6 separate regions of the Homo sapiens genome follow, and regions 1, 2, 4, 5 and 6 are each linked to region 3. The links come from fine-mapping of genetic effects on gene expression. A gene starts in region 3. Each other region holds a variant in brackets. All regions are shown on one strand. Distances are between the middles of the regions. Region 1 overlaps CRYM (crystallin mu). Region 2 has its middle 47 kb from the start of CRYM. Region 3 holds the start of LDAF1 (lipid droplet assembly factor 1). Region 4 has its middle 54 kb from the start of NPIPB3. Region 5 overlaps VWA3A (von Willebrand factor A domain containing 3A). Region 6 overlaps DNAH3 (dynein axonemal heavy chain 3).

Region 1 (5,089 bases), 110 kb before region 3:
AAGCAGCCTAGCATCGTATGGCAAGGAATTAATTCATGCAAAGGCCCTGTGGTTGAAGGAAGTACATGAGCTTGGGAAGCTGCAAGGAAGCCAGTATGGCTGGAAGACAGGAAGTGCAGGGGAACATGGCATGGTGGTATGAGAGACAGCTTTAGAGATAGGAGGGCCAGACCATGCAAGGCCTTGGCAAATGCAAATGAAACAGACTTTCAGACTCTTTAAATGAGAAACCCAGCAGATTCATATACGTGTACTTAATAACCTGCATGCTTAGGAGAAAAGATTGAAGTGCCACTAATGCTGTTTAATAAATCTTATAAACATATGATTAAAAATCGGCTGGGTGCAGTGGCTTACACCTGTAATCCCAGCACTTTTGGAGGCCGAGGCAGGTGGATCACTTGAGGTCAGGAGTTCGAGACCAGCCTGGCCAACATGGCGAAACCCCATCTTTACCAAAAAAAAAAAAAAAAATTAGCCAAGTATGGTGGCACATACCTGTAATCCCAGCTACTCGGGAGGCTGAGGCATGAGAATCGCTTGAACCCAGGAAGCAGAGGTTGCAGTGAGCTGAGATCACACCGCTGCATTCCAGCCTGGGCGACAAAGCGAGACTGTCTCGGAAAAAAAAAAAAATTTTAAAAATATCAATTATCACACTATTACCAGGGCAACAAATTATCAAGTAAGACAACCAATTAGAATTACACATTTAGTTTAGGAAGTTGAAGGTTATTTTTATGGGATACTGTAACAATTTCTGAAGCTCACCTGTACTTTCAAGAATAGATTCATATTAACTGAGAACAGAAGAAAATGGTAACAATTAAGGAAAAAAATCTAATTATCCTTATCAGACAGCAACATAAGATTTCTAGTCTTGTGGATATTATCATTTTGAAACCTTTTCAAATCAGAGACGTTAAACTATATTTTATGGCACAGAATGGTATCTCTCCTTCGGTAGCTGCAGGAGATAAAATTAATTCCTAATATTTCAGAGATGCTGTTTTGCTAGTAATTAGTAGTTAAGAAGACTTTTCACTTTTTAAATATTATACTCCAAAATTCCAGTGAGTAGCATTTTATAAAAGAACAGACCACAGGGAACTCAAAGTTTACTAAATGGAATAGAGAAAAGGCAGAAGAGGGTTTTATTTAATACATATGGTGTCGAGGGCCAAGTGATGTCTTTCCTCTATGCCAGTGGTTCTCCACTGAGCATGAGTTTGCCACCTGCTCCAGAGACATTTAGGAGTGTGCAGACGTTTTTAGTTCCCACAACTTGAAGGGGTGGAAAATGCTACTAACATCTAATGGATAGAAACCAGAGATACTGTTGCACATCCTATAATACACAGGTTGGTGCCCCTCCCCAATAAAGAATTGTCCAGCCCAAATGTTAGTAGTACCGAGGTTGAGAAGCCCAGTGCTACCTCTTGTAGGTCATAGTAGGTATGTACCAGTTCTGTGCAAATAAGACTACCTCTGTCCTCATGGGGCTTAAAGACCTGTAGAAGAAAATCTACAAACAAATAAGTGCTATGGCCTGGTGCATTCTATCAAGGAGGTCAGAAAGGCTTCATTGGAGAGGTGGCACTGGACGTGAGTTGATCACAGAATCCTGCTCTCAAACACAGACACCCTCAGGAGATGCCACAAATGCTAATTCTACATTCGTCTTTAGAGGAAGACAGAGGCAGTGAAAAGATCAACAGAGTTGGCCCAGTGAATATAGCTAGAACCCTGGGAAGGAAGGGCTCACAGAATCCAGGCAGCTCTTAGAAGCAGCTCAGAGCTCTGAGAAGTGGGTATGGCTGAGCATGTACCTGAGATATGAAGAAAGGACATGGGCTTTGGAGTATGGAAGACGTGACTTTAGAGCCACACTGTGCCCTTCAATAGTTGTAAGACCTGGCTAGGTGCGGTGGCTCACGTCTGTAATCCCAGTACTTTGGGAGGCCGAGGTGCACAGATCACCTGAGGTCAGGAGTTTGAGACCAGCCTGGCCAACATGGTGAAACCCCATCTCTATCGAAAATACAAAAATTAGCTGGGTGTTGTGGCGCACACCTATAATCCCAGCTCCACGGGGGGCTGAGGTAGGATAATCACTGGAACCCAGGAGGCAGAGGTTGCAATGAGCCAAGATCGTGCCACTGCACTCCAGCCTAGGCGACAGAGCGAGACTCCATCTCAAAAAAAAAGAAAAGAAAGAAAGAAAGAAAAAGAAATAAATAAATAATTTTAAAAAGTAGTTGTAAGACCCAGAGCAAGTTCACCTTTCTGTTACCAGGGCAACCTCAGTCTCTTCATCTGTAAGAAGAAGATAGTAGGAGTCCCCAACTCGTAGGGTCAATGTCTAGACTAAATGAGATCATGGGGGCAAAGCATTGGCATACATTAGCTGTTCAGTGAAGCCTTCTTCCTTCTTTTCCCACTTGATACGGGGGAAACTAGACACAAAAGGAAATTCTCTTGATTGCCTGCAAGCTCTTGAGGGAGGCAGAAGAGAGGGCAGAAGTCACCTGATACTCAAACCATCTTAGTTTTTTACCCGTCTGCTAGGGTCTCCCTTGACCTTTGCCACTTCATTTCTCTCATATAGTTTCTGAAACCTCCCAGCAGTGAAGTGCTGTGCATCCTTGGGGCTGGGGTCCAGGCCTACAGCCATTATGAGATCTTCACAGAGCAGTTCTCCTTTAAGGAGGTAAGTCCAGGGGTGGGGGTGGGAGAGAAGAGGGAAGGGGGTGGTCCTTGACCTGTCTATACTGCTTCACTGCACCACAGGTTATTCTGAAATAATTAAGTTGTGAGCCCCATCTAGACCATTCTTGTATCTTCATGACTTCCCAGAAGCCCTGATGGAGGGGATGGAGGATAAGAGTCAGGGGAAGATCTGATTACCTGTTTCCAGTCCTCAGTTCAGAGGGCATTTGTCTGAGGATACAGCAAGCTTACTCGGTTAAAAGATTCTATTATATCTCTTGTATACATTCAGTTGTCCTTTTAGCTCCTGTCTATTATGTTTTTCTTAGGAGAATCC[A/G]GAGTTTTTAAGTATTCAAGGTTATGGATCAAGAAACTGGGTGGGATGAGACCTGGAGACCAGGAGGCCACAGCCTCTCTCTTTTGCAGTCTCCATACTGGTCCACCTTCCCCCCACTGCGTCTCATGCTTCCCCCTGGGAATTTTTGATGCTATTGTTATTTTATGTGTGTGTATGAAAGGGATGGAGCAGTTTTAAAGTATGATTTAATGATGAAAATAAAACCACTGCCTTGAGAAATATAGACTATTAGGTGAGTGCAAAAGTAATTGCAGTTTTGGCCATGACTTTTTTTTTTTTTTTTTTTTTTGAAATGGAGTCTCGCGCTGTCGCCCAGGCTGGAGTGCAGTGGCATAATCTCGGCTCACTGCAACCTCCATCTCCTGGGTTCAAGTGATTCTTGGGCCTCAGCCTCCCAAGTAGCTTGGATTATAGGCGCCCACTACCACACCTGGCTAATTTTTGTATTTTTAGTAGAGATGGGGTTTCACCATGTTGGCCAGGCTAGTCTGGAACTTCTGACCTCAGGTGATCCACCTGCCTTGTCCTCCCAAAGTTCTGGGATTACAGGCGTGAACCACTGCGCCCAGTTGCCATTACTTTTAATACAAGGAAGAAAACAAAAGAAAAATGCCCTTTCATCTGTTTTCAAAGACAGTTAATGTTTTCTGATCTTCCCTCTTCAGCTTTTTATAACATAGCTTTAGTCACGTTAGATATGCACCATTTTATATCCTCTCTTACTGAATGTTCTAACATCACTTTTCAGGTTATCTAATTTTTGCATAAAATTTGCATAGTCTTCTATCAAGAAGGGTGAAGAGGTTAACCATGCACTTCCGGCCGGGCAAAATGTCCTGTTTTTCACCTTGCTTGGTGAACTTGCTTAGACATAAAGTTTGTTTCCGTATGTATTATATTTCCTTATGAGAAATTCTGTAGGCCTTATTTTCAGTTGACGGGTGACAAGCCCTTGACCCAAACATTGAAACCTGTCAAGCAAGTCGGCAAGTCCCCAGCTCCTGGTGAGGCCGCTGCCCCACCCTCCAACCCCAGCACCTTTCAGGATTCCAGCCGTAGCTACCATTCTTGGCCTTTTCATTGGCTATGCCATTTACCTTCAAACTCGTCTGATCTTGAATTTCCTAAGTATTCTTCACCGATCAAGTTATTCCATGAAAAACATTATCATAAATAATCCTTCATATGAATCTCCCACCCATTACAACTCCTTTACGGGGTCTCAGACATAAAGTGTGAGTTCCACACAGACTTTGCCAGTTATATTTCCATTTTACAGATGTGGAAACTAAGGCTGAATGACATGAAGCAATTTCAGGAAATAGCAGAGTGGAGATTGGTTCCAAGCCTACCTGGCTCCAGAACTTGCTCTGCTAATCATTATGCTATTAATATATAATAGCTATGAAGTTACTGAGGCTGTGCCTCTTGGCCTAGAAGTGAAATACTTCCACTCATTTTAAAAGGGGAAAGTGGTAGAGAACGCTGATTTTCAAATACCTGGCTAGGTGTCTAAGTTAATGCTGTACCCCTGATCAAATGTCCATTCTCCATGGGGAATGATTTAGGAGTGATTTAGATAACCACTGACCCCTATGCCAGAGTAGTTCAACTTTCCCTCCGCATCCCTGGGCTCAGTGTAACATAAGCAGCCAAAAAATGGCGCCAATATCCTTCTTGTTACTCCCAATGAAGGTGAGGATATGGAACCGCACCAAAGAAAATGCAGAGAAGTTTGCAGACACAGTGCAAGGAGAGGTACGGGTCTGTTCTTCGGTCCAGGAGGCTGTGGCAGGTGCAGATGTGATCATCACAGTCACCCTGGCAACAGAGCCCATTTTGTTTGGTGAATGGGTGAAGCCAGGGGCTCACATCAATGGTAAGTAGAGTGGCTCCATAAGGCATGATGGGTGGTGGCCAGGCTCCTCTCTAGACGGGACCAGTCGACTACATTTGCAGAGCCAGTTTATTCATGCAGAATGCCCAAGCTATTTAAGGGCCTTGAAAACATGTGAGATTGAA
Region 2 (5,089 bases), 170 kb before region 3:
CTTCTGCCATGGCTTCAACCGGTCCCTCCGTTCGGGGTCCCTGACTTCCCGTAATACACGCCTGTAATCCCAGCACTTTGGGAGGCTGAGGCAAGCAGATCACCTGAGGTCAATAGTTTAAGACCAGCCTGGCCAACGTGGTGAAACCCCGTCTCTACTAAAAATACCGAAAATTAGCCAGGCATAGTGGAGGGCACCTGTAATCCTAGCTACTCAGGAGGCTGAGACAGGAGAATTGCTTGAACCCGGGAGGCGGAGGTTGCAGTGAGCCGAGATCTCGCCATTACATTCCAGCCTGGGCAGCAAGAGCAAAACTCCACTCAAAAGAAAAGAAAAGAAACCATCCATGAAATTCATTCAAAATCCTACAATAAGAGAATCTCTAGTAGAGAAAATACTAAGAAATTAAGGAACAATACTACTTTATTGTTTCAATATTTGAGGCAATTATGTTTCAATATTTGAGGTGATCAATCAATGAATTTAGCCTAGATTAAACTTAATCTAATTGAAATTTTAAAAGACTGGGGTGTCATTTGTACTCTTCTAAGCCAAAGTAGTTAGTCATTTAAAATATCTGTATGTGGAATTGTATACACTAAAGATTTTCTTAGGAGTAAATGTGTTTGATGTAAACAGGATATCAAAGGCTTCAAAAGCCTGCAGGGGAAAATGAAATATCATGCGGTTTTATTACTCAGATTTAAATGGCTTGATTGTCACAACTCTTCCTGCAGCAAATCCCCAATAGTCTGATTCTCAAAAGCTTCCATCGGGAGCCTCATCATTGCCAATGTAGATGGAATAGCTTGAGAGAACATCAACATCCTCACCAAAGGTACTATTCCATGCTTCTCAAGTCCCCGTCTCTCAACAGGGTTTCCACTCCCTGCCACACTTGTCACCTGGACTCCAACGTATCACTAGTTCTGAATCTCAAAAAGACTAGCATACAGTCAGTTCCCTCAGCTACTTTGCTCCACTCATTTTTTGCACAAAAAACTATGAAAAACAAAGCAAAATAAAAACATAACACTCAACTCCAAAGATTTAGCCCCCATCCTGGACAAGTGTCTTTTCTGTATGTAGGGATCCTGGGTGGAGACCCTTGAGTTTTGAGCCTCCAAAACATCTGCATTTAGGTGAATGCGGTGGTTGGGCACTTGCTTTATATTTGCATAAAAATGAGGCATTCCTATAGTTCTCATAAACAAAGAAACACCTTTATCCAAAGGGAAGAGGGAAGAATGAGGTCAGATTCTGGAACTGACCTGGATTCTGGTGTTCCTGAGTTAATATTTATTTAGCCTGAGAGGTGACTGTGCATTCACAATGATTTATCTCCAAGACATGTACTGTAAGCCCTCACTTATCATCATCAATAGGTTCTTGGAAACTGTAACTTTAAGTGAAATGATGTATAACGAAACTAACTTTGCCATAATCTAATTGATATAAACAAGAGTTAAGGGCCAGCATGGTGGCTCATGTCTGTAATCCCAGAACTTGGGAGGCTGAGGCAGGGGGACTGCTTGAGGCCAGGAGTTTGAGACCAGCCTGACCAACATGGTGAGACTCTATTTCTACAAAATTAAAAAAAAATTAGCCCAGGAGTAGTGGCCCACATCTGTCATCCCGGTTACTTGGGAGCTTCAGGTGGGAGGAACACTTGAGCCCAGGAGTTTGAGATTACAGTGAGCTATGATTGCACCACTGCACCCCAGCCTGGGTAGCAGAGCAAGACCTTGTCTCTGAAAAAAATTAAAAAAAAAAAAAGAGTTAAGTTTTTATTGTATATTACTGTTTTCTTTTTTCGGGGGTCAGAAAAACATCACCAAACATCTAAATAAATACCAAAACACTTCTAATATTAAACACTGAAATAAATAATGTGAGCCATATATACATTTAAGACAGATTAACAAACACAAGTAAAATAATGATTTAGATAGTTATTCCAGTTCAGGGTCGCAGGGGGCCAGAGCCTGTCCCTGCAGCTTAGGGCACAAGGCAAGAACCAACCCTAGACTGGATGAATGCCATCACGGGGCACAGT[C/T]ACGCACACCTCACACTCACTTAGACTGGGACAATGTCAACACGTCAATTCCCCTAAAGTGCACATCTTTGGGATGCAGGAGAAAATTGGAATGCCCAGAGAAAACCCACACAGATACGGAGAGAACATGCAAGCTCCACACTGACAACAGCCCGGGCTGGGAATCAATTTCTTTTTTCCCATCAAAATTATAACAAAATGACGTTGGACAAAATGACATTATTCAAGGGCCTGCTGGATTTGAGGCAGCCACTGAAAGAAAGGATCCAGCCTCCCTGACTGCTTTTTATACCCAGATTTCCATGTTGATCTCTAGTCAGCAACATAATCATTCCCCAAAGTTGATGAAATTTTGATAAGAGTAACAGCTTTCATGATGAGATGAATCAGACATCTCTCAGCTTCATGTGTGACTCCATATGACCAGCTTATACTTGGCTGCCAATGTTCTAAATCACTCATCAGCTTCAAAGAACCCAAGGGCACACACCAGGACAAGGCTTCATCTGCGCTTGCCGCTAATCATGGTAACTCATGGCTGAGGGTGTGCCCAATATTTTGGCACCAACCTGAGCCCCTTACTGCATCTCAAACAGGCTGGGGATGGTAGGTATCAAGGATAGTCCAATTAGTTTTGAAAAAACAGTAAATGTACTGCTTTTCTAGTCCATAATGCTAACAGTTGTGATATATTGTGATACAACTATGGTGTCAGAAAAACATGCAATTGCCCTTAGGGACTGTCACTGATGATACATTTTGATATAAAACTGCAGATTTTGGCCAGGTGTGGTGGCTCATACCTGTAATCCCAGCACTTTGGGATGCAGAGGCGGGTGGACCACTTGAGGCCAGGAGTTCAAGACCAGCCTGGCCAACATGGTGAAACCCCATCTCTACTAAAAAATACAAAAAATTAGCTGGGCGTGGTGGTGCATGCTTGTAATCCTAGCTACTTGGGAGGCTGAGGCAGGAGAATCCTTGAAACTGGGAGGCAGAGGTTGCAGTGAGCCAAGATCGCACCACTGCACTCTAGCCTGGGCGACAACTGCAAAACTCTGTCTCAAAAAAAAAAAAAAAAAAAAAAACCTGCAGATTTATTATTGTGAGGAAAGGGTAAATAGCAAACATAAATCCTATTTTCCTGGACCCAGGTGTACCCACTAAGATAACTATGAGTTTACTCTCTGGCAGCACTGTGCCTAGGTATGTGCTGAGTTTAAAAATACAGAATGTTAGCAGTGCCTGGAACTCATCATCAACATTGTTTGCTGCCATATATCTCGTCTAGAGACTACACTTGACTTGAGAAGAAAGTAAGTAGGACTTTGCACAAATTCTGGCAAACAAAAGTGGAGGCTTCCATATAATTACAGAGTCTACACCGTATCGACCTCAGCTCTTGAACTGAATGTGCCCTGTGTACTGGTGGAACGTACAGCTGCACCTGTGCTGTTGGGAGACTTTCATATGAAAGTGCTGATGCTGTACATGTTATGTTCCCATCCTGGACACCATCCATTTTCATCATTCTTGGTTATGTTCTATAAAGTCATCACAGACACTTGAGTTAGGGAATACTGAAAGATTACTCCTAGGGAAAATACTCCTAGGTTCCTGCAAGCCTCTGGTCACATTTTCATCAATTGATCAATACACGACCTGTTTTTTGGGGTGTTTCCGTTTAAAGACACCTTATTTAATACATACTGTTGATTCACTAACACTGACCTCACAGCCAGCAGCAGTATAACTCATGCCTGAATTAAGCTTCTCTAACATAGATATTTTCTCCAAAAGACATAATCAGGGCCAGGCACAGTGGATCATGCCTGTAATCCCAGCGCTTTGGGAGGCCAAGGTGGGCAGATCCCTTGAGATCAGGAGTTCTAGACCAGCCTGGCCAACTTGGTGAAACCCCATCTCTCCTAAAATATAAAACTGTAGCTGGGTGCAGTGGTGTGTGCCTGTAGTTTCATCTACTCAGGAGGCTGAGACAGGAGAATGGCTTGAGCTGGGGGAGGTGGAGGTTGCAGTGAGCCGAGATCACGCCATTGCACTCCAGCATGGGCAACAGAGTAAGAATCTGTCTCAAAAAAAAAAAAAAAAAAAAAAAAAAAAGACATAATCATAGCCCTTTTGCACTTAGGAACATGAGACAGTACTTCAGCACTATGCCTGGGGCTGACATTAAACAACAAAATCACCAACATAAAGAACAAAGATGCAAAAAAAAAAAAAAAAAGGCACTAACTATATCAAGTCAAGAATACTTGTTTGCAGTATGAGGGTTGAAACAAGGTGGACAGGGTGTCATCTTCTTTGACCTGGCCAAGGCTGGGAACCACCCTTGGAGAACTCAAAATTTTTTGCCACTCCCTGCATGTCTGCAAATGACCTCAAAAGTGAAACAGTTACTGATTTTGAGTTACACATAAATTTTAGTGAGTTGTTGAATTCACAAATTCAGAATCCACAAATAATGACAGTTAATTCTACTTTCTTAAGACAGTTTAATCTGATGGTAGCTTAAAGTATATTTGGATTGCTATCCAAACCTAAGAACATTGTTGGTGGCTATGAAATTACGCTGAGGGGTCATAATCATCACTTTTGGTAAAACTGCAAAATACCAGATGCAAAGCACCTGATCTAATCTCCCTTTCTCAGGGGGTAGGCAAAGCTGGCACATAAATTTCAAAGCTGAAAGTAGCTTCTTGGGGGCTGGAATCAGGGGGGAACCTACAAGAGCTGGTCAGGAGCAGGAGGAGACATGGGCCTCAGAGAATTCAAATCATCAAAGTTGGTAAAACTAAGTCCACTCTTAAGAATAAAAAAGGTAGGCTGGGCGCGGTGGCTCACGCCTGTAATCCCAGCACCTTGGGAGGCCGAGGTGGGTGGATCACCTGAGATCAGGAGTTTGAGACCAGCCTGACCAACATGGATAAACCCCATCTCTACTAAAAATACAAAATTAGCTGGATGTGGTGGTGCATGCCTGTAATCCCAGCTACTCGAGAGGCTGAGGCAGGA
Region 3 (5,078 bases):
TGACAGCTTATGTTTATTTTTTAGCTTGACAAAATGCTGAAAATATACAGAAAGCAAGAAAGCTGAACACACTATTTCAAATCTCATTGCCTTTTATTCTCCCTAGAAAGCTTTCCTTGTACAACAGTAGCCTTGACCTGTTTCTCTTCTTTATTACTGTACAGGTTGGCTCCCAATTCCATCATTCCATACATCATCATCTACTTACTTGTGGGTAAGTCTATCCCTGCTAAGGAGAACTGCACCTCGGGGGCAGACCTCACCACAGTAATTATACTCTAACTAAACTGCCTGGAATTTTGAGGGGTGTCCCAATCTCATACAATTTTTACTTATTTTTAATAAAGGCAATTGGTTAAATTAGATATATTTTTTAACCCTTGTTGAGTTTTCAAATATAAAAAAAAAATCATTCTTATTTTATATTTCCCAGAACTGGCTGGACACAGAGATATCTTTTCCATTTCTCCCTTTAAACTGACCTGACCTACAGTACAAATGCTTAAAAGATTGTGTCCACGTGGCCAAAATTAATTGAGAGATCCTCACATTTATTTATCATATAGGGGGTAATTTTATCTACTACTAAGCTGTACAGGGTCTAGTATGCAAATTAAAGCACATTTTAATCATCCCAGCTAGACATCCTCTGCTACTTCCCTTTTGTAAAACAAGAAACCCTTTGGAGGGGAAAGTTGAGGAGGGGACTAATCCCACCACCCCACATTCTCTCTTTGAAGCTGCCTCTGGCGTAGGTCTTGAACTTGGGATGTTCCCAGCACTCAGTTCCCATAATCTCATCTCTGCAGCAAGCAGAAACAAGCGGAGTTCCCCTTACAGGTCTCCTTTGGCCTGGGAGCCTCAAGTGCCACCCAGACCGGTTTGGGGAGTCCGATGAGAGAGTGCGTGGGGCGAATGCCATCGGCCACAGCCTTCAAATGCGTCTACCTGGCCACCAATTCCCAGACCCCCTGGTCACTCACTCCTCGGAGGGGCCTCCCCAGGCACGGAGCTGTCTCCCGAGAAGGGAAAGCGAGAACCCGGCGCGGCCAAGGAGTGCCCCGCCTTCTTCACGCCTGGGGGACTGGGCCAGGCCAACACCAGCTAACCCTTTCCCCTTCCAAGGCTCCAAATAAATCTCCTGGCCCTCCCACCCCCGAACCTCCAGGGGAAAACGGCTACCTCGAAAGTTCAAGCTGGGAGGAGGGGTCACATCTCTGGTTGGGGGATGGGAGCTACAGGGCGCCTCGAGCTCACACTGGCCGCCCCTCCCCATCCGGGCCCAGCCTTTCAGCGTTCAAAAGCCAGGGAGACCCAAGGAGAGGAGGAAGGGAGTGAAATGCAGGTGGAGAGGGGGTCCGCGTCCCAGAAGGCACAGAGACTGAATAATGGGAACTCAGAGGGGAGTCGAGTACTTAGTTATTAATTTGGGGGTAAAGAAGCCCCCTTTGATACTTGCAGATCTCTCTGCAGCGATGGGGAAGGGGACCTCGGTGGAGAAGAGGGGCTGGGTGGTGAGGAAGGCGCCCGTTTTCAATAATCCTAGGGAGGTTTGCCTCGACGTCTTCCCCAGGTTCCCCAGAAAGGGGCACAGTCTCGGGGTGTGGTGGTGCTAGCTACCATTTTACCTAATCTAGTGGTAGTGTGTGTGTGTATGTGTGTGTGTGTTGGGGGGTGGCGGGGTGAGTGTGCATTTAGGGGTGGGGAGGAATCGTGTCTCCTCGTGCGCTCCCAGCCCCGTCCCGGCGACTCATAAGCAGGAGACGCCCCTTACACTAACCCCGGGGCAGAAAGCTACGGGCGTGGGACCCCGATAGCGCGCTCACGCCGTCGCCCCCGCGCTCCTCCTCTGTCCCCGCCCGGCGAGAGGGGTCTAGCCACCCGGGGCACCCGGACCCCCACCCCCAAGCTCCGAGCTCTCACCTGCTCCTGACCGCCGAGCAGCCCCCACCGCGTTTGCAGGCGAAGCGAAGAGAGGCAGGAGGAGGAACAAGAGGAAGAAGGAAAGAGCGTCCCGAGAGGGAGCCAGAGCCGCCTGCCTCCGCCCCCTGGCCCGGGCACCGCCCCTCGGCTCTTCTCCTCTGGGCTCGCCCCGCCCGTGGCCGGAAGGATCCGGCAAAGGCGCGCCAAGGCCCGGCGCCCAAGGCTTTGCAAAGCGCGCTCGCTCCCACTGGCTTTCGGAGCCACTAGAACAAGCCCTGAGAGGTTGACAGCTGAGGAAACTGAGGCTCAGAGAGTGTCCCTTCCCACACGACTGGCTTGGAGTGAGAAAGCTCAGACCACCTTCAAGACAGGCAGACTGGCAGCCGAGAATGAGTTTTCCAAGGGTGTCAGGGTTTCCCCTCCTGTATGCCTAAAACCAGCTGCTCTGGAACGTCTCTGGCGCTCAAGACACACACGTGATGAAGTATCACCCTGGCTGGAAGTTTTTAACCATGACTGCTCAAATGCGAATGTCATAAGCCAGTGAGATCCTTTCAGATGGATTGGATGTCCATTTTACACATGAAAAAGTCCAGGCTGAGAGAGACAAGATAAATCAATCCAAATTCCTCGGTTTGCATGGATCCAAGTCGGAGCAGGAGCCCCTGTTTCCCCTGGCCCCAAATCTGCCCTATAGAGTAAGGTTTCTGAATAGTATGCTATTGACATTTGGGGCGGAATAATTCTGTTTCTGAGCTGTGGATTGTAGAATGTTTAGCAATATCCTAGCCTCTACCCATTAGATGCCAGTTACAAGAACCGCCCCCCCCCACCTCCAGTTGTGTCTCAAAATATTGCCAAATGTCCCCTGGAAGGCCCCATCGTCCCGAGGTGAGAACCACTGCTATAGAGCATGATGGCAACTTACTGTGTGACTAAGTAACCTCTCTGAACCATGGCTTCAACCATAAATTAGAGAGAGGGATAAGCCCAACCATTGGTCTGCTGTTGCACAGTTCTCAGCCACTTTCCAGACAGGGACCTGTGTTGACCGACCTCTCCTCTTTGCCTGTGGCCATAGCAACCTGGAAAATAAGTCTTTAGATAACAAAAAGCTGGCAGGGTGCGGTGGCTCACACCTATAATCCCAGCACTTTGGGAGGCTGAGGTGGGCAGATCACTTGAGGCCAGGAGTTCCAGACCAGCCTGGCCAACATGGTGAAACCCCATCTCTACTAAAAATATAAAAACTAGCCAGGCATGGTGGTGCGCACCTGTAATCCCAGCTACTCGGGAGGCTGAGGCAGAAGTATCGCTTGAACCTGGGAAGTAGAAGTTGCAGTGAAGACACTGCACTCCAGCCTGGGCAACAGAGTGAGACCCTGTCTCAAAAAAAAAAAAAAAAAAAAAGAAGCAATCACAGGGTTGTAGTGAGGACTGGTGCAATAGTGTGGCTGTGGCTGTCGAGAACTTAGCACCTATTGAGGCACAGAGTAGGGGCTCAAAAATATTTGCTTGGGATGATGATTTATGATGATGATCACGACAATGATATGATAAACCACAGAATCCTGCTGTAATTCCACAATAGCAGAAAGAAGAGCTAATGGTGGGGATAGGACAGACAAGAATCCCTAAATTCTTAAGTTTTAGCCAATCTTGTCTGGCGTCATGCACTTTGTTCAGCTGCAAAATGCTGGGTTCCCCACCCAGGAAAAGATTGTGTGTGTGTGTGTGTGTGTGTGTGTGTTTCCTTAGATTACAGCCTTCCAATCATCATTCCCTAAATGGAAGTTGCTTTGGAAAGCTGAGTTAGGGTTTCCACTGGGATTTTTGTTTAAGAGTGCCATCTAGGGGCGTCTCTGTGAATCTTCAAATTCCTTCCACCTCTGGCATTTTTGGCTGGGCCAGCAGAGTTTTGCTTGTCTTTGTGTGATAGATGCTTCCTCCATCACATCATGTGTTCCTCCAGGGCTGGGATCCTAGCATCTCTCCATAGCATCAGGACTTGGCCCTCAAGGAACATGCAGTGGTTGGGTTAAAAAAATCCACGCGCAGCCTCTCCTATGCTTTCCCAATTACTTGCTGCAATGGACTGAATGTCTGTTCCTCTAAAATCCTAACCCCCAATGTGATGGGATTAGGCATGGGGTTTTTGGGAGGTGATTAGGTCATGAAGGTGAAGCCCTCCTAAATGGGATTAGTGCCCTTATAAAAGAGATCCCAGTGGCTCACACCTATAATCCCACCACTTTGGGAGGCCAAGGTGGGTGGATTGCTTGAGTCTAGGAGTTCGAGACCAGCCTGGGCAACATGGCGAAACCTCTTCTCTACTAAAAATACAAAAGTTAGCCGGGCATAGTGGCACATGCCTGTAGTCCCAGCTACATGGGAGGCTGAGGCAGGAGGATCTCTTGAGCCCAGGCAGTGGAGGCTGCAGTGAGCTGAGATTGCACCACTGCACTCTAGCCTGGGCAACAAAGTGAGACCCTGGCTCATTAAAATAAAATAAAATAAAATAATAAAATAAAATAAAATAAAATAAATAAAATAAAATAAAATAAAATAAAATAAAATAAAATAAGAATAACTCCCAGAGAGCTCTCTTACCCTCTTTCCACCATGTGAGGATACAATGAGAAGTTGGCAGCCTGCAACATGGAAGGGGGCCTTCACTGGAACCAGACCACCCTGGCACCCTGATTGTGAACTTCCAGCCTTCAGAGCAGTGAGAAATAAATGTCTCTTGTTTATAAGCCACCCAGACTTTGGTACTTTGCTATAGTAGCCTCCAAGGATTGAAACTGTTGCTCTGCTTAAACAACTATTTTAGGCCTCAGGAATGAGCTGCCAGGAATACCAGCCTCTGAATAAGAAATGTGTGAAATTTTTTTAGCAACAGATTAAGACCCTAAACTCTTGATAACAAGAGGCAGGGGCAACTTGGAACCTTGCTGACCTCTGCTCCCCATGTTGGCAGATTTGGCAAATAAAAACACACGACACTCAATTAAATCTGAATTTCAGGTAAATAATGGGTAACTTTTTAGTACAAGTACAAGTACAGCCCATGTATTGAATGGGACATGCTTATACTAAAACTTTTTTTTTTTTTTTTTTTTTTTGAGACGGAGTCTTGCTCTGTCTCCCAGGCT
Region 4 (5,089 bases), 210 kb before region 3:
GTCACCCAGGCTGGAGCTCACTGCAGCCTCAACGTCCTGGGCTCAAGTGATCCTCCTGTCTCGGCCTCCCATGTAGCTGAGACACAGGCACGCACCCCCATGCCCAGCTAATTTTTTAATTTTTATTTATTTGTAGAGATGAGATTCTGCTATGTTGTGCAGGCTGGTACCAAACTCCTGGCTTCAAGCGATCCTCTTGCCTGAGATTCCCAAAATGCTAGGATTACAGTCAGGAGCCACCTTGCCCAACCCCAGATATTTTCATAGTTGTAATGCTAGTGTATACATAATTTTGTGATCAATTTTCTTCACTTAACATTGGCTCTTTAACATTTTTTCATGCTGGCAATAATAATAACAGCAGCAACAGCAACTACTATTTACTGAGCATTAACTATGCACCAGCCATTGCAGTAAACACTTTACATCTGACATCATCACAACCAAGGCCATCTCCATGTGAAAGACAAGGTCTGAAGCCAGGACAAGTGAAGTGACTCGCCCAGCAACACAGTTAGTAAACAGTATGGCAGAAAGGGACCCCAGAGCTCACTGCAAACCACTAAATCACACTGCCCTGCAAAATGAGGGGACTTGGCCCTCTTCAAAATGATCACGTTCACAACTGTTTAATATTCCAAGTGGGGGAAGCTGAGTCTTTGCAGTCGGACCTGGCTTCCAATCTAGGAGCTAAACAGGCTCACAGTCCCCTCTGAAATGTGACAAAGGCTTTGAACCTGCCTTCCAGAAGGAGGCAAGTACACCCATCTCCAGAAACTGCATGGCAGGCTAGTTAAGTTCACTCTAATGTTTCAATTCAACTTCACTAGGATCCACTGCATTCTTCCTGGGAGCTGTGAACCAAGCTAGGCTATGTGTCACCAGCTAGAGACAACAAGAACTCGTCCCTAAGGGGCTTCCAGTCTAGCAGGCAGGACAACAGAGAAAAAGTCCATTCAACCAAATGACCTTGAGCAAGTCACTCAACCATGCTAAGCCTGAAAATCCTCTCCCATAAAATCAACACAAAAGTGCAGAATCGCCCAGGGTTACTGGGGTAACTAGAAAGGGAAGGAAAGCACCGAGCACAGTGCCCAGTCCATGATGACCAATCAGCATTTGCTTAATAATTAATTCTCTTCATAGCAGAGGGCATTCGCGTGGGTTCCTTTTTGTGTTAGCAGCATCTAAATGTATACATCCGTATGAGCGTGCATAAGTATTTGTGGATCAAGACAATCACTGGGATCATTTAGGATAAACTTCCCAGGAATAACAAAAACCAGCAAGAGGGCAGGTCCCTCAAGACTGTCTTCTGTCTCAATCCCTAAATGTCAAACTAATCCACTTCCCAAGCTCATCCGATCAGTCTAATCCACACAACTGTACAAAACAGCCTTCCTTCCACTCTCCGCCTCACTCAGAAACCAGGACGGGGAATCTGGCGACAACAACGCCCTGGGCCAGCCGGCCAACAACGTATTTCAAAATACCCCAGACCATTGTCGGTACGTCCATCACATTTCCAGTCAAGTGACTCTCACTTGCAGCCTGTCTTGAAAAATGCAGTCACCTCCCTCCGACCTTGAATCTACATGAACGCTTTAAAGTGTGTTTTCACCTTTCAATTCTGCAAAATTGCTTACTGCTACAGAATCCTTTTAAAGCTTGTCAGGGTGATGCTGCTGATGATAAGAATTATCCCAGCAGGGTTCCGCTTCCACTGCCAGAGTTAATGTGGTCTATTTAAAGGGCAGCTCACCTGCCAATTAGCGCCTGCGGTGTCCGTAATTTAATTTAGGGATATACACTGATCTGCTTTGAAACATGGGGTTAAGTCAAAAAGCGGGCAAGGGCTTCTGGTTCTCCAAACACCTGAAAGCCGAATGCCAACAAGAACAAGTGCCAGGAAGGGGTGTTGAGAAGAGCTGCCCCGGGACACCTATTAACAGAGGATGACTAACAGCACCAGGCTTTTGGGAAAGTTTCTATCAAGACTTAACTATCACCGATGCCCAAGAATTCATTCCTTGGGGACCACAAGGAAGACAAAAACCTTGTCCCAAATTCTAGTTCAGGCACTGTGTGACCTTGGGAAACTTATTTTGTCCTCTACTTTCTTCATCTGTACAGTGGGGAGAACAGTACCTATGTGTATGGATTGCTATGAGGGAAAAATGAGAAAAAGGAATACATGTAAAGTGTATCCAATAAATGCAGTGAATAAATGTTAGCCATAGTTATTAACATACCTGGCATATAATTGGTGCTCAACGAAAACCAACTATTAATATCACTACTACACGTGCACCAAACAGCATTCCTTTTCCTTGTTTGGGGTTTTGTTTTGTTTTGTTTTGTTTTTGAGGGGTGGGGTGCGGACAAGGTCTCACTCTGTCGCCCAGGCTAGAGCACAGTGGCACGATCATAGTTCACTGCAGTCTTGAACTCCTGGGCTCAAGCGATCTTCCCATCTCAGGCTCATGAGTAGCTGGGACTACAGGTGTACACCACCATACACGGCTAATTTATTTTTTTCTGTAGAGACAAGGGTCTTACTATGTTACTCAAGCTGGTCTTGAACTCCTAGAATCAAATGATCATCCAGCATCGGCCTCCCAAAGCACTGGGATTATAGGCGTAAGCCACCGAGCCTGGTCCCTTTCCCTTTCTTCTAGTAAGACCACCCCTCTTTCCTATGGGAAACACATTCCACTGGGATCCTTCAGCACTATCCTAACCTCCCCCTACTGCAGGGGTGGACAGCTAACCCAGGGCAGGCAATTAACTGGCCGGAACCATGGCATATGCAACTTTCATTTTTTTTTAATATTACATAAAAATAGTATTTATCTTGATTGATAAGTTTTTTGGTACCGCCTTCAATTTTGTGGCCAAAGTGAGTGTGTCACTAACCTCACCCCAGTCTCAGCCCTGGACCACAGGGTCCCTTCGCACAAGTTCTACCAGAGCCACCAGAAAAGAGGCCTTGTCTCCTCCAGGAGCTGAGGTCAGCAAACAATGGCCTGGGGGTCAAATTTGGCCTCCAAACTGTTTTTGTAAGCACAGTGGTCTTGGAAC[G/A]CAGCCACACCCATTTGCTCCCATATGGTCTGTGGCTGAGTTTCTGCTCCAGTGGCAGAGCTGAGTCACTGCGATGGAGATTGCATGGCTCACAAACCCTATAATATGACCCATAAGGAGGGAGTGTGCCGACCCCGTCCTAGAAGTAGGATCTCTCATCATCCTGGAAACCTGGAGCTACTTGGGGCCATTTTCCACCCCATCATGTAGAGACCCCCCACCTGGAAAGACACCCAACCACAGAGAAGCGGTGCTGAGGGATGACAGATGGAGACAGATTTGGGAGAAGGGCAGGCCCCCTGAATCCAGCTCAACTCCAAGATGATTTCTTAGATACTTGAGTCAATAAATAAATGTCCTTCATCTTTTTTTTTCTTAAATCAATCTAAAGAATTTTCTATCATTTGCAACCACAGGAAATAATGCAGTGAGACAGGGCATGTTCTTCAGTCATCTGACAATCATCTATAGAAGACCAAGAACACACCAAGTGCTGAGCAACACCTGTGCTCCACAGCCATGGGGGGTGAGGGGTGTCTCATCAATGTGACAACACTGCCCCAAAACAAAGCATTGCTCAACAACAACAAAAAAAACAGAAAACCCGCCGGGCACGGTGGCTCACGCCTGTAATCCCAGCACTTTGGGAAGCTGAGGCAGGTGGATCACGAGGTCAGGAAATCGAGACCATCCTGGCTAACACGGTGAAACGCCATCTCTACTAAAAATACAAAAAATTAGCCAGGTGTGGTGGTGGGCGCCTGTACTCCCAGCTACTTGGGAGGCAGAGGCAGGAGAATGGTGTGAATCCGGGAGGCGGAGCTGGCAGTGAGCCGAGATGGTGCCACTGCACTCCAGCCTGGGCAATGGAGCAAGACTCTGTCTCAAAAAAAAAAAAAAAAGAAAAAAACAGAAAACCCAAGACCAGCCTGGGCAACATAGTAAGAACCCATCTCTAAAAAAAGGAAACAGAAAACCCAACTACAAGGAGCCGAGTGTGGCAGCACACACCTGTAGTCCCAGCTACTTGGGAGGCAGAGGCAGGAGGATGGCTGGACCCCAGGAGTTTGAGGCTGTAATGAGCTATGATTGCACTACTGCACTCCAGCCTAGTTAACAGAGCAAGGCCCTGTCTCTAAAAACAAAACAAAACAAAAAAACCCACACACAAAGAAAATCCAACCCCATGGAGCTGGGCTAGTCTGGAAATAGGCCAGTGATACAAAGGCTATGTCAGGCCAAAACCTCCAACCTTTTGACCTCGCTGTCACAGAGGACTGTCCTAACTTTGGGCATCTCATTTACAATTGAGCAGGAAGAAAGGGAATGGGATGAAGCCAGCTTTATCGCCCCTTTTATCAGGAAAGAACAAGTAATCCCAGAAAATCACAAGGGAGCAAAGAAAGCAAAGAACAAAACTCAAAACTGGCTTAATCCCTCACCGAGATAAAGGAGTACATACCACAGCCTCAAGCAAAATCTGGGTTCTATCAAAGCCAAAGAAGACAGAGGGATGAATCTGAGGGCACACTCTAACAGAATCAGCCACACATGGTATCAGCCATGCCAGGAACAAAGGTAAACCAAGTTCACTCATGTGCCAGCCTGAGAACTCAGTGAATACAAGTGCTCCTAAATCTGTCACATCCCAAACTGAGCCAGCCTGACTGCAAGGCACAAATGGATTGGCAGAGCAGAGTGCCAACAAGGGGCTGAGCTCTGTCACTCTACCATCTTCCAACTAGCCACAAGACTGCCTTCCAGAACCAGGGCTCAGCATAACACACCCGCATCCTACAAGAGTTTACAGCATACCACCTCCTTTATTAAAGAGTAGGAAATAAATTAACCAGGCACAGTGGCATGCATGTGCAGTCCCAGCTACTTGAGAGGCTGAAGTGGGAGGATCGCTTGAGCCAGGAAGTTCAAGGCTGCAGAGAGCCATGATTGCACCACTGCACTCTAGCCTGGCAACAGAGCAAGACCCTGTCTCTTATTTAAAAAAAAA
Region 5 (5,089 bases), 990 kb before region 3:
CTCTGAGCCTCTGTGTCTTCATCTATTTTTTTTAATTTTTATTTTTTTGAGATGGAGTTTCGTTCTTGTTGCCCAGGCTGGAGTGCAATGGTGCAATCTCGGCTCACTGCAACCTCTGCCTCCCAGGTTCAAGCAATTCTCCTGCTTCATCCTCCCAAGTAGTTGGGATTACAGGCATGTGCCACCACGCCCGGCTAATCTTTTGTATTTAGTAGAGACGGGGTTTCACCATGTTGGTCAGGATGGTCTTGAACTCCTGACCTCAGGTGATCCACCTGCCTTGCCCTCCCAAAGTGCTGGGATTACAGGTGTGAGCCACCGCACCCAGCCTGTGTCTTCATCTATAATGTGAGAACATTGAGAATCCTTTTCTCACTCGGGTGTTGGGAAGATGAAATGATGTAGTGCTTTGTAAATTATAAAGCGCCCTTTGTAAATCCTAAAGCATCGTGCAGCATCAGCATAGGGGATGATGGTATTTGTTTTGCGTCAAGGTCGGGCTCCGTGGTGGGACTTGCCAGCAATGCTTGCAAGATGGAGGTGCTGCCCTGAGCTTGCAGGTGGGTCACCCATTGCATAGCCTCATGACACGCTGCATCTGTGGTCTCCACCAGCGTGTCCTGCCATGACTGAAAGCTCTCTGCAAAGCTGAGCAGGTTAAAACTGGGGAGGAGGAAAAGAGGAGGTGAGGGGCAGAGAAGGGGAGAAAGAGATTGGTTAGAACAGGCCTGTCTAGATTGAATTCAGATAAGTTACCCTCATGAGGACTATTCTTGCTCGTCACTGAAGACCCCTACAACGAGCCCTGTGGCCCCTCAGGGAGAGGGCTGTGGGGCCTCTTGAGAATGAGAGGGTACACACTGACAATTTGAATGCAGACAGAAATAGATTTAAATCCCAGCCCAAGCCAGACACAGTGGCCTGTGCCTGTAATCCCAGTACTTTGGAAGGCCAAGCTGGGAGGATTGCTTGAGGCCAGGAGTTCAAGACCAGCCTGGGCAACATAGTGAGACCCCCATCTCTACGAAAAAGATTTTTAAAAAATTAGCCAGGCATGGTGGTGTGCGCCTGTAGTCCAAGCTACTTGGGAGGCTGAGGTGGGAGATCACTTGAGCCCAGGACGTTGAGGCTGCAGCGAGCTATGATCACACCACTGCACTCCAGCCTGGGAGACAGAGTGAGACCCCGTCTCAAAACAAACAAGCAAACAAACAACCCAAACAATCCTATCTCAGCCAGTGACTGGTTACCCGATCTTCAGCAAGTGTCTTAACCTCTTGAAGTCCTGGCTTCCTTTTCTGAAAAATGGGGGCCGATAACAGCAACACCTCACGGGCTCATTGTGAGAGTTGATGAAATGATGCGTGTAAAGCATCTGGTGCACAGAAAGTGCTCAATAAATGTATACTCTGATTAAGGCAAGAACGAGGCCTAGTCTACGATGAGAGTCCCCTGGGGTCCCCTTCGGGTCAACCCTTCTGGATGGGGAAAATAAACAACTTCCTCCACTCAAAAATCAAGTTCACAAAAATTAAAAAAATTAAATCATTAAATAATTTAAAACAAATCAAGTTCAGCTGAAAGCCATACTTCAAGGCCACATGGTAGTTCCTTTGCTGTGCTTGCAATTGTCCCTAGGCCTGAAATTAATTTTTAAAAATTGCGTTCCTTTTTTTTTTGAGACAGGGTCTTACTCTGTTGCCCAGGCAGGAGTGCACTGGTGCAATCATAGCTCACTGCAGCCTCAACCTCCTGGGCTCAAGTGATCCTCCCTTCTCAGCCTCCCAAGTAGTTGGGGCTACAGGTGCACACCACCATACCCAGCTAATTTTTAAATGTTTTGAAGAGATGGGATGACACTTTGTTGCTGAGACTGGTCTTGAATTCCTGAGCTCAAGTGATCCTCCTGCCTTGGCCCCCAAAATTGCTGGGATTACAGGTATGAGCCACCATACCCGGCCTCTAAAAACTGATTTCCTTCACAGCAGAGCAGAATACAGTGCTCTTTCCTACTCAAACGCGTTACTCAGAAGAGCATCTCAGAAACTCCAGGCCTGTTGGCACTGAGAAGAGGGGGC[G/A]TGCTTGGCCAGGGAAGCCCCAGGAACTGCCCCTTTGATCTTCCTGATCAGCCCTCGCCTCCTACCTGTCACAGCACTTCCGCAGCTGTTCCCAAATCAGCAAAACCAGCTCTGTCTTCACCTGCTGCAGGTAGGGGCCCATGGACCCTGACGTGTCCAGCAATATGCATACTTTGCTCTCCAAAACGGTGCCAAACAGTCGGCGGCTCCCTGCTCCGAGACAGGTGGGGAAGAGGCAGGGAGGGAGTGAGGGGTCCCTCCTCCTGGGTGGTTTCCCTCACTCTATCTATCAAGTATAAAGTCTTGTGACACCTGTTGCCTGCCTGATCATTGATTGGATGTCACCCCACTGAGAGACGGCTTTTGTGGTGCTGTGGGAGGGGTCGATTGTCCAAGGACAGACCTGGTCAGTGGTTTGGGCTTTGGGAGATCGAGATTTCAGCTCTGGCTTTGTCTGTGATGAGTTGCACAAGCGGTTATAACCTCCTGGGCTTGAATTTCCTTATCCTTAAAGTTAAGTGATTGGATTAAATAGTACCATGACATTGTTTTAAAATATTAGATGGTGTTTGGGTGTGTACTGGTATGTGAGCTGGGGGATTCATACTACAAAAGAAATCGCTGGATCTCTGGTTTTATGTCACCGTTCCCAGGGGTAATGTGAACCGAGGGTGGAGAGAGGCTCACGCCTTCTCTGTCCCAGCTCAGCCTCTGACCTGACAACTGTACCTGAAGCAGCAGTCATCATGACGCCCCTGTCCATGGACTGTCTATACCAGGTCCTACTGCAGAGGACTGGACCTAATGAATTTACACAGGACCCTGAGTGGCACGTACAAAGCCACCTGTAGGATCTCTATATAGGACTCCCTTCCTCCCTCCTCCTGATGCCCCAGAAACCCTCCAGGCCCCATAGCCCGAATCCCCTCCTGTCCAGTTCTAGCTGTCTGCCTGTCTTCTTGGGCTTGATGCTTCCAGACCGTCTCTTAATCCACAGCCCAACCCTGTCCATTCACCTCTCCTGGAGGGGACTTGGTGCTCTCTGTAAAGAGGTACACAGTAGCTCACACCTATAACCCCAGGACTTTGGGAGGCTGAGGCAGGAGGATAGCTTGAGCCTAGGAGTTCGGGGCCAGCCTGTGCAACATAGAAAGACTCTGTATCTAAAAAAAATAAATAAAGTAAGCTGGGCATGGTGGCACGTGCCTGTAGTCTCAGGTCCTTGCAAGGTTGAGGTGGGAGGATTGCTTGTGCCCAGTTCAAGGCTGCAGTAAGCCATGACTGCACCACTGGACTCCAGACTAGGTGACAGAGAAAGACCCTGTTTCTAAAACAAAACAAAACAGAGGGTTTCTGCTCTGTCAGTTCCCCTTACCATCTGCATCTCCAGGGGCTGTTTTGCTGGGGCGCAGTCAATATTAAAGCAAACCTTTTGACAGTGAGCCCCTTGTCACTTGCAGGAAGGCAAGGTGTGGCAGGTGGCCTTGCAGAGCAGGCTGGGATGCGTGTGAGCTCCCGCTGGGGCTCTTTGGCCCATGTTCCACCTCCCTGTTATCCAGCCCCTTGCCTGTCCTCTGAACCCACTGTCATTTTTTTTTTTTTTGGATAGAGTTTCACTCTTGTTGCCCAGGATGGAGTGCAGTGGCGCGATCTCAGCTCACTGCAACCTCTGCGATTTTCCTGCCTCAGCCTCCTGAGTAGCTGGGATTACAGGTGCCCGCCACCATGCCTGGCTAATTTTTTGTATTTTTAGTAGAGACGGGTTTCATCATGTTGGCCAGGCTGGTTTCGAACTACTGACTGGTGATCCACCCACCTTGGCCTCCCAAAGTGCAGAGATTACAGGCATGAGCCACCACGCCCGGCCTCCCAGTGTCATGTTGTATGTGGATGATGTTCCTGGCCTAATCCTCTGATCTGCAGTTCTTGAAGGCCTGGCTTTGGAAGGACTGACACTGGGGTCCCTGGGGCTAGCCTTCTACATCCCCTCATGCTCCTCCACCCTTCAGGGCAGTGGGCAGGCTCACCGGACAGCAGCCACTGCAGCCTCTGGACATAGCGCCTTAACACCTTCTCCAAGTGCCTGATGTACACCTCCATCTCCCTGGGCGTCCACTGGATGTGTCTCACCACTCCCTGGGTTAAGGCAAGCAGAGGCAAGCACCCACCCCATCAGTCATTTCTTCATATCCCCATCACCCCCTAAAATTGTTTATTCCATTGTGGTTAACAATTCTCAAAATATTTGTTGGCTGGGCACGGTGGCTCATGCCTGTAATCCCAGCGCTTTGGGAGGCCGAGGCAGGAGGATCGCTTGAGCCCAAGAGATCAAGACCAGCCTGGGTAACATAGGGAGACCTCATCTCTACCAAAAACAGAAAATTTAGCTGGTGTGGTGGCATGTGTCTGTGGTCCCAGCTGCTTGGGGGAGGCTGAGGTGGGAGGATTGCCTGAGCCCAGGGAGGTAGAGGCTGCAGTGAGCTGTGATTGCACCACTGCACTCCTGCCTGGATGACAGAGCAAGATCCTGTCTCAACAAACAAACAAAAACCCACAAAAAACAACCATCTGTTAAGTGTATTTTTTTTTTTTGTTTAAAGCCTTTTTTTCTTCTATTAAACTAGTGGATTTATGGTTCTACAAAGGAGTAGGGAATTAAGATTTTTTTTTTGGTAAATGCAGTTGCTATATTAATAAAAATCATAATAATTTCTGATTTTTTTTTTTTTTTGAGACAGAGTCTCAGTCGGTTGCCCAGGCTGTGTAGTGCAGTGGTGCGATCTCGGCTCACTTCAGCCTCTGCCTCCCGGGTTCAAGCGATTTTCCTGCCTCAGCCTCCTGAGTAGCTGGGATTACAGGTGCACAGCACCATGCCTGGCTAATTTTTGTATTTACAGTAGAGACGGGGTTTCACTGTGTTGGCCAGGGTGGTCTCGAACTCCTGACCTCAGGTGATCCGCCCGCCTTGGCCTCCCAAAGTTCTGGGACTACAGGCATGAGCCACTGCGTCT
Region 6 (5,000 bases), 63 kb after region 3:
CATATATGTAGCTAAAGTACATATGAAAATTATGAAAACGGAGATATGGCTGTCATAGAGTGGAAACAGAGATGATAGGGCAAGTAGCTGATTATCCTACAGTTTCAACCAGACAGACCTCAGCTGCCAAGGTCCTTGGAGGTGGCAGAGGGACATTCTTGCTTGAGTTCATGCTTTAGTTTCCTCTCTTACTCTCCAGATGAATAAGCATTTCCCTCCACTTGGTTTTCAAGGCACTGAGGAATTTGCCCTGGTGTCTTCGAGGGCTTAGGAGAACAACCCATCCCATAAACAGCATCTCCTTTTGCCCTGCAGTTGATCAATAAGGAGGAAGAGCTATTGGAAAAGGAGAAGAGTACTTACCCTCTTCTGCAGGCCATGCTGAAGAACAAAGTACCTTATGAGCAGCTGTGGTCGACAGCCTATGAGTTCAGCATCAAGTCAGAGGAATGGATGAATGGTATGTGGTGATCTCACTCTGCTGGGACAGATGGGGATGAGGTGGAGGATCCACCCAGTCACTTCTGAAATATGGTTTGCACTTAAGAATCTGGCTGGACTTTTAATCAGATTCTGACACTCCAGATTAAGGCAGCCACAGTCAAAATTATCTGATGTGATAATAAAAATGGAAGGTGGAGAAAGAGCCAGATCTATTTCCAGGGTAAAACACAATAGGCAGCCACCCAGAGTCACGACTTAGATTTGCAGATGGTAGGAGAACAGATGGCAGTTTCACGATGGTGCTGCTTCAGGAAAGACCAGGGTGCCAGGGTGCCATAGACATTTGTAAACTACCTTTTACTCTAGGATCTGGGGTCCAGAAAGGTATTGAGGAGTTGGAATCAACAGGACTTAATGATTGATCCGATATGGGTTAAGGGGCAGGGAGGAAGAGGTTACTATCCTCTCAAAGGTAAGAATTTTATTGCCTCAGAGGTAAGAATTTTAATGCTTAAAGAACTTACTAGCTGACCTTTGGGAAAAGTTACTTAGCTTCTCCAAGACTTAGTTCTCTTACTTCAGGGATGAGTGAGGATAATAACAGCAAAGAACCAACTTCCAGATGACTGGCTCAGGCAATTTGGTTGGTATTACCATCACTGAAAAAGAGAAGTGACAGATTTGTTGGGAAAAAAACAAAACAAAACAAACAAATAAAAAAAAACCCATCAACTTGAATACATTGAGTTTGAGGCACCTGGAAACAATCAAATGGGAATATTAAATAGCAATTGAGTGTATCAGTGTGGATTTTAGGAGAGAGATTTGGCGGGTGGGATTTATGTTGGGGAATAATTGATGTGTAGATTACAATCAAAGCCATGAATGATAACACCTGTGGAGGGTGTTGAAGAACAGAGGACAAAATCAGAGATCCTTGTCTGGGTGCAGTGGCTCACACCTGTAGTCCCAGCACTTTGAGAGGCTGATGCAGGGGGATTGCATGAGCCCAGGAGTTCGAGACCAGCCTCAGTAACATAGTGAGAACCCTGTCTCTACAAAAAATAAAAAATCAGCCAAGTGTGATGGTGCACGTGTAGTCTCAGCTACTCGAGAAGCTAAGATGGGAGGAACGCTTGAGCCCAGGAGATCAAGGCTGCAGTAAGCTATGATCTGCTTACTACACCCCAACTTGGGCATCAGAGCAAAACCTTGTCTCAAAAAAAAAAAAAAAAATCAGAGACCCTTAGGTTTGAGCCTTTAGCAAGTTTCTAGTGCTTCAGTATTTATAAACACAAGAAAGCCAGTCATGGTGGCTCATACCTGTAATCCCAGCACTTTGGGAGGCCAAGGTAGAAGGATTACTTGAGCTCAGGAGTTTAAGACCAGCCTGAGCAACTTAGCAAGACCTTATTTCTACTAAAAACAAAATGAAAAAGTTAGCTGGGCATGGTGGTGTGCACCTATAGTCCCAGCTACTCAGGAGGCTGAGGCAGGAGCATCGCTTGAACCTGGGAGGTTGAGGCTGCAATCAGCTGTGATGGCACTACTGCACTCCAACCTGGGAGACAGAGCGAGACCCTGTCTCAAAAAAAACAGTATTTATAAATTACCAAGTGTTTTTATTAGAAATAGGTATTGTATTTTAAAAACATTTTACATTTTATTTTTAAATTTATATACATTAAAATGGACATTTTTGGCATACATTTCTATGAATTTTAACAGTTGTTGACTTTCATATAAACATCACTACAATCAGAAAACAGCAATTTCATCAACTCAATAAATTTCTTTGGACTGTCTCCTTGTGGTCAAATCCTCCCCCCAGTTGTAACCCCTGGCAACTATTGATCTCTTCATTGTTCCTATAGTTTTGTCCTTTTGAGGCTCCTCCTACAAATGGAATGATACAGTATGCAATCTTTCAAGACTGCTTCCTTCACTCAGCACACTGCCTTTAAGATTCATCCGAGTTGTTGGATGTAGCAATAGGTCATTTCCTTTTATTGCGAGTAGTATCCCATTCTATGGATACACCAGCTTAACCATTTACCCACTGTTTTCACTCTCAGACTATTATAAATAGAGATGCTGTAAATATTTATGTCAACGTTTTTGTGTCAATGTAAGTTTTTATTTCTCTAGGGTAAATGCCCAGCAGTGGATTGCTGAATTATATTTAAAGTATATTTGCAAGTTTATAAGAAAATGC[C/T]AAACTTTTGTTTTCCACAGTGGCTGTGCCGTTGTGCATCCCTCACCAATGTGTGATAATTCCAGTTGTTCCACCTCTTCATCAGTGTATTAGTCCATTTTCATACTGCTATGAAGAAATACCTGAGACTGGGTAATTTGTAAAGAAAAAGAAGTTTAATGAACTCACAGTTCCACTTGGATGGGGAGGCCTCACAACCATGGTGGAAGGTGAAGGAGGAGCAAAGGCACTTCTTACATGGCGGCAGGCAAGAGAGCATGTGCAGGGGAACTGAGCTTTATAAAACCATCAGTTCTCATGAGACTTATTCACTATCATGAGAACAGCATGGGAAAACTCGACCCCATGATTCAGTTACCTCCCACCAGATCCCTCCCACAACATGTGGGGATTATGGGAACTATAATTCTAGATGACATTTGAATGGGGACACAGCCAAACCATATCAACCAGCCACTGGGTATTATTGTCCATATATATATATATATTTGAGATGGAGTGTCACTTTGTCATACTTTGTACAGTGGTGTGATCTCGGCTCACTGCAGCCTCCGCCTCCTGGGTTCAAGCAATTCTCCCACCTCAGCCTCCCATTTAGCTGGGATTACAGGAGCATGCCACCACACCTGGCTAATTTTTGCATTTTTCGTAGAGCCGGGGTTTCACCATGTTGGCCAGGCTGATCTCAAACTCCTGACCTCAGGTGATCCACCTGCCTCGGCCTCCCAAAGTGCTGGGATTACAGGTGTGAGCCACTGTGCTTGGCCTGTATTTTTTTATTTTAGCCATTCTCATAAGTAGTTGTGATGTCTCATTATGATTTTAATTTGCATTTCCCCAATGCCTAATGATCTTGAACATTTCTTTATGTGCATACCTGTCATTTGTATATCCTCTTTGGTGAAGTGTCTGTTCAAGTCTTTTACCCATTTGTTTAATTGGTTGTTTGATTTCTTACTGTTGAGTTTTGTGAGGTCTTTATAAATTTTGTGAGATTATGTGATTTACAAATATTTTCTCCAAGTCCATGGCTTGTTTTTTTATTCTCTTTATAGTGTCTTTCACAGAGAAAAAGGTTTTAACTTTGATGACGTCCAACGTATCAATTTTTCTTTTATGGATTGTGCTCTTGGTATCATCTCTAAGGACTCTTAGCCTAACCCTGGTCATGAAGATATTCTCCTATATTTTCTTCTAGATTTTTTGTGGTTTTATGTTTTACATTTAGACCTATGGTCCATTTTGAGTTAATTTTTTTAAAATACGAGGCTTAGTTCAAGTTCATTGTCTTACATATAAATGTCCAATGGTTCCAGTAATTGGGAAAAAAAAATTTTTATCCACTTAATTGTATCTTTGTCAAAAATCAGTTGTCCATATCTTCGTGGGTTGATGTCTTGACTCTATTCTGTTCTGCCAATCTATATGTCAAGCCTTTCACTGATACCACATCAACTTGACAACTGTATTTTTATAGAAAGTCTTAAAATCACATAGTGTGATTCTTCTAACTTCATTTTTCTTTTTAAAATTTTATTTTGAGTATTTTAGTCCCTTTATTTTTCCACATAAATTTGAGAATCAGTTTGTCTATACATACCAAAAAACTCTGCTGGGATTTTGTTGGAAATGTTTTAAATCTATAGATAAATTTGGAAAGAATTCACATCTTTATTACATTGAGTCTTTCAATCAATGGACACTTTACATCTCTTCAATTATTTAGTTCTCCTTTTACTTCTTTTTATCAGTGTTTTGCAGGTTTCAGCATACAGCTCCTATGCATGTTTTGTTAAATTTATACATAAATATTTCCTTTTTTGGAGCTATTGTAAATGATGTATGTTTTTGAATTTCACTTTTTGAGGTAAGTACTATGAAGCACAATTGCTGGATTATATGATAAGAATATGTTTAGTTTTGTAAGAAACGGCCAAACTGTCTTTCAGAGTTGCTGTACCGTTTTGTATTTCCACCAATATAAATGACATTTCCTGTTGCTCCACATCCTTGCCAGCATTTAGTGTTGTCAGTGTTTTGAGTTTTGACCATTTTAATAGGTGTGTAGTGGTATCTGTTGTTGGCTATTGTTGTTGTTATTGTTTTTAAATTGAGATGAGGGTCTCACTAATTTGCCCCAGGTGGCCTCAGATTCCTGGGCTCAAGCAATCCTCCCACCTTGGCCTCCCAAAGTGTTGGGATTACAGGCATGAGCCACCATACCCAGCCACTCATTGTTTTTTAATTTGTAGTTCCTTAATGGCAATGATATTGAACATCTTTTCATATGCTTATTCACCTCTTGTATATCTTCTTAGATTAGGTATTTGTTCAGAGCTTT

The links. PIP is the estimated chance that this variant, and not a neighbour inherited with it, causes the effect.
Region 1: its variant is the best candidate, but not a certain one, in a credible set for the expression of LDAF1 in whole blood (INTERVAL, PIP 0.70).
Region 2: its variant is the best candidate, but not a certain one, in a credible set for the expression of LDAF1 in whole blood (TOPMed, PIP 0.63).
Region 4: its variant is the best candidate, but not a certain one, in a credible set for the expression of LDAF1 in whole blood (INTERVAL, PIP 0.68).
Region 5: its variant is the best candidate, but not a certain one, in a credible set for the expression of LDAF1 in whole blood (INTERVAL, PIP 0.80).
Region 6: its variant is the best candidate, but not a certain one, in a credible set for the expression of LDAF1 in aorta (GTEx, PIP 0.72).

What each region holds. Positions count from the first base shown.
Region 1 is chr16:21,267,411-21,272,499 of GRCh38, reverse strand. CRYM (crystallin mu) reads left to right here. Exons shown (of 8, transcript NM_001376256.1): 4 at 2,609-2,710; 5 at 4,763-4,946. Among named protein-coding and RNA genes, the nearest start is that of CRYM, 8.3 kb to the left of the region's middle. The variant A/G (reference allele first, on the strand shown) is at 3,047.
Region 2 is chr16:21,322,864-21,327,952 of GRCh38, reverse strand. No RefSeq gene overlaps it. Among named protein-coding and RNA genes, the nearest start is that of CRYM, 47 kb to the right of the region's middle. The variant C/T (reference allele first, on the strand shown) is at 2,057.
Region 3 is chr16:21,155,592-21,160,669 of GRCh38, reverse strand. LDAF1 (lipid droplet assembly factor 1) reads right to left here and starts at 1,996. Exons shown (of 5, transcript NM_001301771.2): 1 at 1,924-1,996. It also overlaps a transcript of DNAH3 not described here. RefSeq lists enhancers at 715-864, 999-1,499 and silencers at 1,757-1,936, 1,987-2,116.
Region 4 is chr16:21,369,011-21,374,099 of GRCh38, reverse strand. It overlaps the pseudogene SNX29P1. Among named protein-coding and RNA genes, the nearest start is that of NPIPB3, 54 kb to the left of the region's middle. The variant G/A (reference allele first, on the strand shown) is at 3,082.
Region 5 is chr16:22,145,361-22,150,449 of GRCh38, reverse strand. VWA3A (von Willebrand factor A domain containing 3A) reads right to left here. Exons shown (of 34, transcript NM_173615.5): 27 at 4,106-4,214; 28 at 2,144-2,288; 29 at 519-663. Among named protein-coding and RNA genes, the nearest start is that of SDR42E2, 15 kb to the left of the region's middle. The variant G/A (reference allele first, on the strand shown) is at 2,079.
Region 6 is chr16:21,092,815-21,097,814 of GRCh38, reverse strand. DNAH3 (dynein axonemal heavy chain 3) reads left to right here. Exons shown (of 62, transcript NM_001347886.2): 18 at 316-460. Among named protein-coding and RNA genes, the nearest start is that of DNAH3, 56 kb to the left of the region's middle. The variant C/T (reference allele first, on the strand shown) is at 2,660.